Regions from separate parts of the Homo sapiens genome. Here region 2 is linked to region 1. The links come from fine-mapping of genetic effects on gene expression. A gene starts in region 1. The other region holds a variant in brackets. All regions are shown on one strand. Distances are from middle to middle. Region 1 holds the start of KIAA2013. Region 2 overlaps MFN2 (mitofusin 2).

The links. PIP is the estimated chance that this variant, and not a neighbour inherited with it, causes the effect. A credible set is the group of variants that fine-mapping cannot tell apart.
Region 2: its variant is the best candidate, but not a certain one, in a credible set for the expression of KIAA2013 in whole blood (TOPMed, PIP 0.64).

Annotation. Positions count from the first base shown.
Region 1 is chr1:11,923,969-11,929,337 of GRCh38, reverse strand. KIAA2013 reads left to right here and starts at 2,911. Exons shown (of 3, transcript NM_138346.3): 1 at 2,911-4,133. The coding sequence starts at 3,101. RefSeq lists enhancers at 2,692-2,986, 2,641-3,304, 3,305-3,967 and a silencer at 2,987-3,056.
Region 2 is chr1:11,990,771-11,996,139 of GRCh38, reverse strand. It overlaps MFN2 (mitofusin 2), which reads right to left. Exons shown (of 19, transcript NM_014874.4): 4 at 3,450-3,585. Among named protein-coding and RNA genes, the nearest start is that of MFN2, 13 kb to the right of the region's middle. The variant G/A (reference allele first, on the strand shown) is at 3,097.

The sequences.
Region 1 (5,369 bases):
CAATATCCCCTTGTAATAAACCTGCACATGTACTCCCTGAACCTAAAATAAAAATTGAAAAAAAAAAATAAAGAAGGTTAAGTGTGGTGGCTCACACCTGTAATCCCAGCACTCTGGGAGGCCAAGGTAGGAGGACTGCTTGAGTTCAGGAGCTCAAGACCAGCCTGGGCAATGTGGCAAAAACCTGCCTCTCCAAAAAATACCAAAAAAAAAAAAAAAATTAGCTGGGCATAATGGTGACGGCCTATAGTTCTAGCTACTTGGGAGGCTGAGTTGGGAGGATCACTTAAGCCTGGGAGATGGAGGTTGCAGTGAGCTGTGATCGTGCCACTGCACTCCAGCCTGGGCAACAGAGTGAGACCCTCTCTCTAAATAAATAAATAAATAAATAGGACTGGGGGTGGTGGCTCACACCTGTAATCCCAGAACTTTGGGAGGCCACGGTGGGCAGATCACAAGTAAGGAGTTCCAGACCAGCCTGGCCAACATGGTGAAACTCCATCTCTACTAAAAATACAAAAATTAGCCAGGTGTGGTGGCAGGTTCCTGTAATCCCAGCTACTCGGGAGGCTGAGGCAGGAGGACTGCTTGAACCCAGGAGGTGGAGGTTGTGGTGAGCCGAGATCGCGCCACTATACTCCAGCCTGGGCAACAAGAGTGAAACTCCGTCTCAATAAATAAATAAATAAATAAGGCAGGCGCAGTGGCTCACGCCTGTAATCCCAGCACTTTGGGAGGCTGAGGCAGTTGGATCATCTGAGGTCAGGAGTTTGAGACCATGCTGGCCAATGTTGTGAAACCTGGTCTCTACTAAAAACACAAAAATTAGCCAGGTGTGTTGGCTGTAATCCTAGCTTCTTGGGAGGCTGAGGCATGACAACTGCTTGAACCTAGGAGGCAGAGGTTGCAGTGAGCTGAGATTGCACCACTGCCCTTTAGCCTGGGGGACAAAGTGTGACTCTGTCTCAAAAAAATAAAAAATAAAAAAAAATAAAAAAAATAAAAAAAATAAAAATGGTAAGCAGACTGTAGGACCACCTGGACAGTTCCTTCTAAAGGGCACTGGCCTCAGCAAACATTTCTGTGTCTGCTCACAGCCCACCAGAGGCCACCTCAAATGACCGTTTAATTTCCAACAACTGGGAAGCACTGTCTGGCTTTGGAATGTACTGAAACCAAAGTGGAAACAATCACCCATTGTCTGCCTCTGTGCTTATATTGAATTTTTTTCCCAAAATACAAAGCAATATTTATCTTTTGCATCGATGATTCACAATTTAAAGCCATTTTCAAAGTATGAGACGTTAGTGTCTTATGTTATTTAATAAGTTAAAACTTAGGACTGACATCAAGAAGACGATTTGGTGTAGTGGAGACATTGATGGCCCTTGGCTGGATTTGTGTCCACGTGTGGTGTGCATGCAGCTAGACAGGTCTGTTAACAAAATATTTTTGGGGAAGTCTAGTTTCTGGTGGTTAGTTTTTATTTTATTTTTTATTTTTTTAGACGGAGTCTCGCTCTGTTGCCCAGGCTGGAGTGCAGTGGCGCGATCTCGGCTCACTGCAACCTCTGCCTCCCTGGTTCAAGCGATTCTCGTGCCTCAGTCTCTCAAGTAGCTGGGATTACAGGCGCCCACCACCACGCCCAGCTAATTTTTGCATTTTTATTTTTTTATTTTTATTTATTTATTTTTTTTTTTTTGAGACAGAGTCTCCCTCTGTCACCCAGGCTGGAGTGCAGTGGCGCGATCTTGGCTCACTGCAAGCACCGCCTCCCGGGTTCACGCCATTCTCCTGCCTCAGCCTCCCGAGTAGCTGGGACTACAGGCGCCTGCCACCACGCCTGGCTAATTTTTTATATTTTTAGTAGAGACAGGGTTTCACCGTGTTAGCCAGGATGGTCTCGATCTCCTGATCTCGTGATCTGGCGGCCTCGGCCTCCCAAAATGCTGGGATTACAGGCGTGAGCCACCGTGCCCAGCCTAATTTTTGTATTTTTAGTAGAGACAGGTTTTCACCATGTTGGTCAGGCTGGTTTCGAACTCCTGACCTCAAGTGATTTGCCCATCTCAGCCTCCTAAAGTGCTGGAATTACAGACGTGAGCCACCACTCCTGGCCTCTGGTGGTTCCCCTTCCCCTCCTCCTCCCTTTTCCTTTCTTCTTCTTTCTTCCTCTTCTTCTCTCTCCTTTTTTTTTCCTCCACTTTTTCGTATTGTTCCAAGTGTTTTTTTGCAGTGAGGATAGTCTTTTTTTTTTTTTTTTTTTTTGAGACAGAGTCTCACTCTGTCGCCCAGGCTGGAGTGCAGTGGCGTGATCTCGGCTCACTGCAAGCCTGCAACCTCCGCCTCACGGGTTCAAGCAGTTCTCCTACCTCAGCCTCCTGAGGAGCAGGGATTACAGGCATGCGCCACCACGCCCGGCTAGTTTTTGTATTTTTAGTAGAGATGGGGTTTCACCATGTTGGTCAGGCTGGTCTCAAACTGCTGACCTCGTGATCCGCCCGCCTTGGCCTCCCAAAGTGCTGGGATTACAGGCGTGAGCCACCGCGCGCGGCGAGAGGATGGTCATTTTTACAGAAACAAAGTTGTTGTGTGTGTGTGTGTGTATGTTTTTAAATTTTGGGGCTGTTGAATCCATCAGTAGCAAAGGGGCCCAACACGTGTTCGGTTTGGCTGGCTCGATGTTTTTTTCACGAGTGAATTGGATGCTTCCAGTCCTCCCCAGACCCCTGCACTTAACTCCACTGGACTTCACTCTTCCGGCCTGGGAACGAGTGGTCCCGCCCCCGGCAGCTTTTGTCCCGCCCTCGCCGTGGCTCCGCCCCCTTCTCTCCGGCCTGCTCTCTCTCCTCCCTCCGCCCTCCCGTTTTCCATCTGTCGTAAAAGACACGGCGACGCTTGACCGCCGGCGTCGTTTGACGGCTGGAGGCCACCGAGAAGAAGGAGGAAGCAGGGGTGGCGGCTGCTGCGGCGGTTGCGGCGGGGGCCGGGGTGGGCGCCGCGGTCCGGGCCGGGCAGTGAGGCGCGGGCGGCCGGGCCGGTGGGCTGGGCGGCGGGCCCGGCGGCCGCCCTCGCACCCTTGCCCGCGCCTGGCGGCCCGATGTGGCTGCAGCAGCGGCTCAAGGGGCTGCCGGGACTGCTGTCGAGCAGCTGGGCCCGCCGCCTCCTCTGCCTGCTTGGCCTCCTGCTGCTGCTTCTGTGGTTTGGGGGGTCCGGCGCGCGGCGGGCGGCGGGCGGCCTGCACCTGCTGCCCTGGTCCCGCGGTGAGCCGGGCGCCGCCGAGCCGTCTGCCTGCCTGGAGGCGGCCACCCGCGCCTGGCGCGGCCTGCGGGAGCGCGGTGAGGTGGTACCGCTGGGTCCTGGAGTGCCGGCCCTGGTGGCCAACGGCTTCCTGGCCCTGGACGTGGCTGCCAATCGGCTGTGGGTGACTCCCGGGGAGCGGGAGCCCGCCGTGGCGCCGGACTTTGTGCCCTTCGTGCAGCTGCGCCCGCTGAGCGCGCTGGCTGAAGCTGGAGAGGCGGTGCTGCTGCTGCGGGAGGGGCTTCTGCGCCGCGTGCGTTGCCTGCAGCTGGGGTCCCCAGGTCCTGGCCCCGTGGCCGCCGGCCCCGGGCCCGCCTCCGTCTCTGGCCTTGCCGCGGGGTCCGGCCGCGACTGCGTGCTGCTGCAAGAGGACTTTCTGGCGCACAGGGGCCGACCCCACGTCTACCTGCAGCGCATCCAGCTCAACAACCCCACGGAGCGCGTGGCCGCGCTGCAGACTGTGGGGCCCACTGCCGGCCCAGCCCCCAAGGCCTTCACCAGTACCCTGGAGAAGGTCGGAGACCATCAGTTCCTCCTCTACTCAGGCCGGTCCCCGCCTACGCCCACTGGGTTGGTGCACCTGGTGGTGGTGGCCGCCAAGAAGCTGGTGAACCGCCTCCAAGTGGCTCCCAAGACGCAGCTGGATGAGACGGTGCTGTGGGTGGTGCACGTCTCTGGCCCCATTAACCCCCAGGTGCTCAAAAGCAAAGCAGCCAAGGAGCTCAAGGCGCTGCAGGACTTGGCACGGAAGGAAATGCTGGAGCTCTTGGACATGCCAGCGGCGGAGCTGCTTCAAGACCACCAGCTCCTCTGGGCTCAGCTCTTCAGCCCAGGTGAGTCCTGGCCAGCGCTTGGTCCACCCTAGATATGTCCCTCCCAAGTCTGCAGAGGTGACACTGAAGGTGATGGTGGGGTGGTTGAAACTTGGGCTTGGCGTTTCACCAGTGGTTGAATCTGCTCAACTGCTTAGTGTCTGTGCGACCTTTGGATTCGTCGCCTAATCTCTCTGGGCCTGTATTTAATAACAATAACGCCTACCTCAGAAGGTTTTTATGAGACTGTAGTGGACAATTGAGTGTAAAGGTCAATTCTTTCTGTTACTTGTTTTGGTAGATGGGGCCTGATGTGAGCAGAGTGAAGTGTTTTAGAGTCAGTTTGCAGAGGTGAAACCAGCAGGTGGATCCCCTGATTCTTTGCTCAGCACCGCAGTCGGCCTGGTGACAGACGTGGGCTTCTTGACATAACCCCTGCTAGGCTGAGGTGCGTCCTGGCAGTTGTGGCTGCAACTGGTTCACAGGGAGGTTGGAGAATCCCTTTTAGCAGGTTGAGATGCTCCCGCCCGATGAAAACTCTCCTCTCGTTGACTGTTAAAGAAAAGAAAATCCTGTTCTGGATGAGAGAGGGGTTTTGGTTTCCAGGGTTCCAATTGTCTGAACCTTTGTGTTTGGTTGCTCAGAGAGTTGAGTTCATTCAGCAAGTATCTATTGAATGCTTCTGCCAGGGCTGTTCTATGCATGGGGGGGTGCAGATGGGAACCAGAGTTCCTGTTCTCATGGTGCTTGCTTAAATTCTGGTTGGGAGGAAGACAGACATTAGAAAAGTGAAAATTAAAATTAAAATAAGGCATCTTTTTAGGCTAGAATGTGCTGGCTGGGCGCGGTGGCTCACGCTGTAATCCCAGCACTTTGGGAGGCTGAGGCAGGTGGATCACCTGAGGTCAGGAGTTCAAGCCAACCTGGCCAACGTGGCGAAACCTTGTCTCTACTAAAAATACAAAACTTAACCTGACCTCATGATCCGTCCACCTTGGCCTCCCAAAGTGCTGGGATTACAGGCGTGAGCCACCGCGCCCGGCGAGAGGATGGTCATCTTCACAGAAACAAAGTTGTGTGTGTGTATGTTTTTAAATCTTAGGGCTGTTGAATCCATCAGTAGCAAAGGGGCCCAGCACGTGTTTATTCAGCAAGTGTCTATTGAATGCTTCTGCCAGGGCTGTTTTAGGCATGGGTGGTGGCCTGCACCTGTAGTCCCAGCTACTCAAAGGCTGAGACGGGAGAATCACTTGAACC
Region 2 (5,369 bases), 67 kb before region 1:
GCTGTCAGCAAAGCCACCAGTATCTGACCTGAATTACTTTCACAACGCAGATACCAGCCTGGAAGGCCAAAGCCCTATTCAGTGCAATGTTGCCAGTGCCCAGACAGTGCTGAGAGACAAAGAGTAGGCACTGTTTATTAAAATGAATAAACACCCCCAGGCCCAAACCTCTGACATGCCCCTGGTTCATCATTTCAGATCAATCTACAAGAGGCTCACTGCGTGCTGTCTGCCCCTTGAATCACACAGCCACCCTCAGCAACACTTATAGAGACTGTCTGTCTGTCTCCAAAGTTTAATTCAGGCCTACCTGAAACACCGACTAACCCCCAGAGTGTCTTCCTCAGTCTAAATGACCCCAGTGTTTCCTACACAGGGCATGTTTCGCTGCTTTTCTCCCATCACGCTCCTCCTTACACATGAAGCTCCACCTTGTGAGTCCCAGCTGACAACTGCCAGGCTAAAGGGAAGGTTACTTTCTCATTCTTTTTTTTTTTATTGTTATTTGAGACAGAGTCTCACTCTGTCGCCCAGGCTGGAGTGCAGTGGCACGATCTCAGCTCATCGCAACCTCTGCCTCCTGAGTTCAAGCAATTCTCCTGCCTCAGCCTCCCAAGTAGCTGGGACTACAGGCATGTGCCACCATGCCCGGCTAATTTTTGTATTTTGAGTAGAGACAGGGTTTCACCATGTTGGCCAGACTGGTCGCGAACTCCTGACCTCAGGTGATTTGCCTGCTTCAACCTCCCAAAGTGCTGGGATTACAGGCATGAGCCACCATGCCCAGCCTACTTTCTCATTCTTACCTATCACACCCCTTTCATGTATTCTGGTGGGGTTTTTTGTTGTTGTTGTTGTTGTTTGTTTTTTTTGATATGGGATTTTGCTTTCTCGCCCAAGCTGGAGTGCAGTAGCGTGTGGCATGAATATAGCTCACTGCAGCCTCGACCATCAGGGCTCAATGATCCTCCCACCTCAGCCTCCCAAGTAGCTTAGACTATAGGTACCACCTATATATAGACTATAGCTGCGACCACGCCCAGCTAATTTTTAAATTTTTGGTAGAGATGGGGTCTTGCCATGTTGCTCAGGCTGGTCTCAAACTCCTGGGCTCAAGCAATTCTCCTGCCTCAGCCTCCCAGTGCTGAGATTACAGGTGTGAACCACTGCACCCCACCATTTCTGCTTCTTGAGAATAGCTCTGCTCAGCAGACTCATCTGCTCTGAGTCTCAGAGCTTTCAACCTGTGCTAAACACAGTGTTTCTCATTCTGAGTTGAAGTTTCTCAGCCATATCACTAGAGCAGAACTACAATGACCTTACCTGCACCCAGTGAGACAGGAAGCCCACTAGCTCACCTAAGTAGGGGGTCATACCTCCCAGGTGAGGATGAAGAAATGATAGTTCAGAGGAGTAGAGGACCACACCTGAGGTTACAGTTCATCAGGGTCAAGACTCTAGGCACAGTGCCTATTCCCCAGGCTACCACTGTGTGCCTAGCATACAATCTGTCTAGATGCCTTTTTTCTTGTATTAGATTTTTTTTTTTTGAGACGGAGTCTCACTCCGTCACCTAGGCTGGAGTGCAGTGGCGCGATCTTGACTCACTGCAACCTCCACCTCCTGGGTTCATGCCATTCTCCTGCCTCAGCCTCCCAAGTAGCTGGGACTACAGGCGCCCGCCACCACACCCAGCTAATTTTTTTTGTATTTTTAGTAGAGATGGGGTTTCACCGTGTTAGCCAGGATGGTCTCAATCTCCTGACCTTGTGATCTGCCTGCCTTGGCCTCCCAAAGTGCTGGGATTACAGGCGTGAGCCACCGTGCCTGGTCATTATACAAGTTATAAATGTTTGGCCTAGTACTTTAGGTACATTGTGGCTTCACAAGGGCCAGTGTTAAAACTGCTTCCATGTCAAAGCAAAGAAAACTGCCTACATATTGGTTTGTCCTGGTGGGGAATAAAAAGGATCATTGGTTCCAGTCACAGGTATAGTAAATGTGGGTACTTTAAGGTTTGGAGCACTTACAAGGCTGTGGTAGAAACAGATACCCCATGGTTATCACATGTTAAACCATGTGTGTCTGTGGAATACTCAATCTCAATGTGCACACCTTTGACTACAGCTGTGGAAGTGTTCCTTTAAACAAAGTTGTGACCCATTTCAATCTGGATAAGGGCAGAAATGGTTCACACTCCATTATTTGTAAAGTTATCTGCTGTTAGCTTTCATTATTTTTGCTACACTCATTTTATTTGTATTTAAAATGTTTCAGGCAACCTAAGAACAAATGTAAAAGTAAAGATGCAGGAAAAATGAATACTTCATGTATATCAAGCTAGCAGTAAAACAAAACAAAAAAAACACGTATTTAACTTATTTTTAGATTTTTTTTTTTTTTTTTGAGATGGAGTCTCACTGTCGCCCAGGCTGGAGTGCAGTGGCCCGATCTCGGCTCACTGCAGGCTCCGCCCCCTGGGGTTCACACCATTCTCCTGCCCTAGCCTCCCAAGTAGCTGGGACTACAGGCGCCCGCCACCTCACCCGGCTAATTTTTTGTATTTTTAGTAGAGATGGGGTTTCACTGTGTTAGACAGGATGGTCTCGATCTCCTGACCTCGTGATCCACCTGCCTCGGCCTCCCAAAGTGCTGGGATTACAGGTGTGAGCCACCATGCCCGGCATATTTTTAGATTCTTTGCTTTTGTGATTTTTTTTTGATGCTTGCCTAACATGCATGCACTGTAAAAATAGTTAACAGGGAAATAACTTGAGATGATGGCTAGCTTTGTTTAATGTCTTACGAAATTTTCATGAACAATACAAGCACAATTGTTAAGAACACGTGTATTAAATTCATGTAAGTGGAATAAAAGTTTTATGAATGGAGAAAAAAAAACAAATACTGTATGATTCCACTTACGTGAGACATCTAGAATAGTCAAATTCATAGGGACAGAAAGTAGAATGGTGGTGGCCAGGGCAAGGGACATGTGGGACAGGGAGTTATTGTTTAATGGCTATAATACAAGCTTCAGTTCTGCAAGATGAAAAAGCTCTTGAGACTGGTTGCAAATATACCTACTAGTGAATT[G/A]TATGCTTAAAATGGTTAAGGTGGTAAATTTTATATTATATGCCTTTAACCTTAATTAGAAAATAAAAAAAAAAAAGTCAGGCTTGATGGCATGCACCTGCAGTCCCAGCTGCTCAGGAGGCTCAGGTGGGAGGATCACCTGAGCCCAGGGAGGTCGAGGCTGTAATGAGCTTCCAGCCTGGGTGACAGAGAACCCTGTCTCAAAAATCAAATAAATAAATAAAATATAAATTAAGAGGAAAGCAATGAATTCTGAAGCATGTCCCTGCCTGGAACGTTCTGTGACCTTGCACAAAGTGCCTCCCTCCCTCCTAGCCAGGAAGAAAGAAAGGGTGGGTGCCTCAAGGACTTACCGGCCAAAAAAAGCCACTTTCATGTGCCTCCGAGCCAGCACCTCACTGATGCCTCTCACTTTGGATAGGTAACCTTTGACGTCCAGAACCTGTTCTTCTGTGGTAACGGGGTCCAGTTCTGCATTCCTGTACGTGTCTGGAGGTGGGGATTGAAAATGGGTCACCACGTGGTCAGAGGAGTTCCACAGTCCCAAGTCTGGAAGGGCCAGAGCGCCGGCCCTGCTTACCCTAAACGAGTCCACCTCTGGCACCCTGCAGCCGACAGGCTGAGCTCCAGATCCTCTATGGTGGCCCCACGGTGTGGTGGTTAAGAAGATGGCTCAGGAGCAACACTGCCTGGTTCTGAAGCTGGTTCTTACCACTTTCTAGCTCTGTGGCCTCAAGCAAAAGAACCTTTCTGGGTCTTAGTTTCCTTAAGCACAAAACGGAGATAACTACATTATCTACTTCATGAGAACATCGTGAGGATCAAACGAATTGAAACACAAATGCTGTGAATGGCGGCTGGTAGAAGATGAATACTTAAATGTTAACTGCCTTCCTTGTTTATTTTTTCTTAACAAATATTTACGAAGTTCTTACCACATGCCAGGCACTGTTCCTTTCACTTTTCAAATTCATTCTCTCCTTTGGTCCTCTTTATTAACATGGCTCCGGAGTTAGTAAAAGGCAGAGCTATGATTTGAATTAGGCAGCCTGGCTCTGGAGTCCAGGCTCTTAACCACTCTATGTCACTTCTTTTTTTTTTTTTTTTTTTTTTTTTTTTTGAGACGGAGTCTCGCTCTGTCGCCCAGGCTGGAGTGCAGTGGCGGGATCTGGGCTCACTGCAAGCTCCGCCTCCCGGGTTCACGCCATTCTCCTGCCTCAGCCTCCCAAGTAGCTGGGACTACAGGCGCCCGCCACTACGCCCGGCTAATTTTTTGTATTTTTAGTAGAGACAGGGTTTCACCGTTTTAGCCGGGATGGTCTCGATCTCCTGACCTCGTGATCCGCCCGCCTCGGCCTCCCAAAGTGCTGGGATCACAGGCGTGAGCCACCGCGCCCGGCCTCTATGTCACTTCTTGAGGCCCTCCCTGCCCTGGCCCTGTTGGCCTCTTGCCACCCGCTGCCTCACGGTCTCCCTCACCATATCCCCAAACTCACCAGCTTCCTCGGCCCTCTGGCTCCATTCCCTGCTGCCCAAACCCCCTCCCCACTCTCTGAAGAACTGACACACTACACTGCCTTGGGGCAGCGTGGCTCATTCTCACTTGGCCTCCGGTCTAGCTTAGACAGCACTGCCCCCAGGAAGCCTTCTCTGACCACCCCTCTAACCTGAGTCAGGACCCCGGACCCCTTCTCTGTGTGCCCCAGCACCCTGCACTTCTCCCATCTCAGCTCTCACCTCACCATAAGGTAACTGTACAGCTCACCTGTCTGTGTCATCTGCCTCATGAGGGCCACACTATCTGACCCCAGCACCCAGCAGGTGCACAAATGTTTGCTACGTGAGCAGACCTTTGGATCACTGCACTGCTTTTTCCCAGTGCCCTTAACAGGCAGATGGCCAACAAATTACTCCATACAGGAGCAACTGAGTGAGATCCCACCACTGTCCTGTCTAGAACTCGCACCAGACAGGTGCTTCAGCTGGCTGGAACACAGACGGGTGTTTAGCCCCTCTGCACACTCCTGGGAACTATGAGGCTGACAGGCCCCAGCCCTGAGAACACTCCGAAAGCATCTGAAGCATGACAAGGGCCTGCCCAGTGAATTTCCCCCACAGCCAGCGCCATGAAAGGAAATGACCAAGTCAACAACACCCCCATCTCCCCTCCCGCTATGTCCACCGGTCACCTCTGCCCCAGATGCATCAATATTCCTCCCTTATATGGGCACCTGGGCATGGCCTTTGGAATGTCCCTCGGAGGAAGCTGGCTC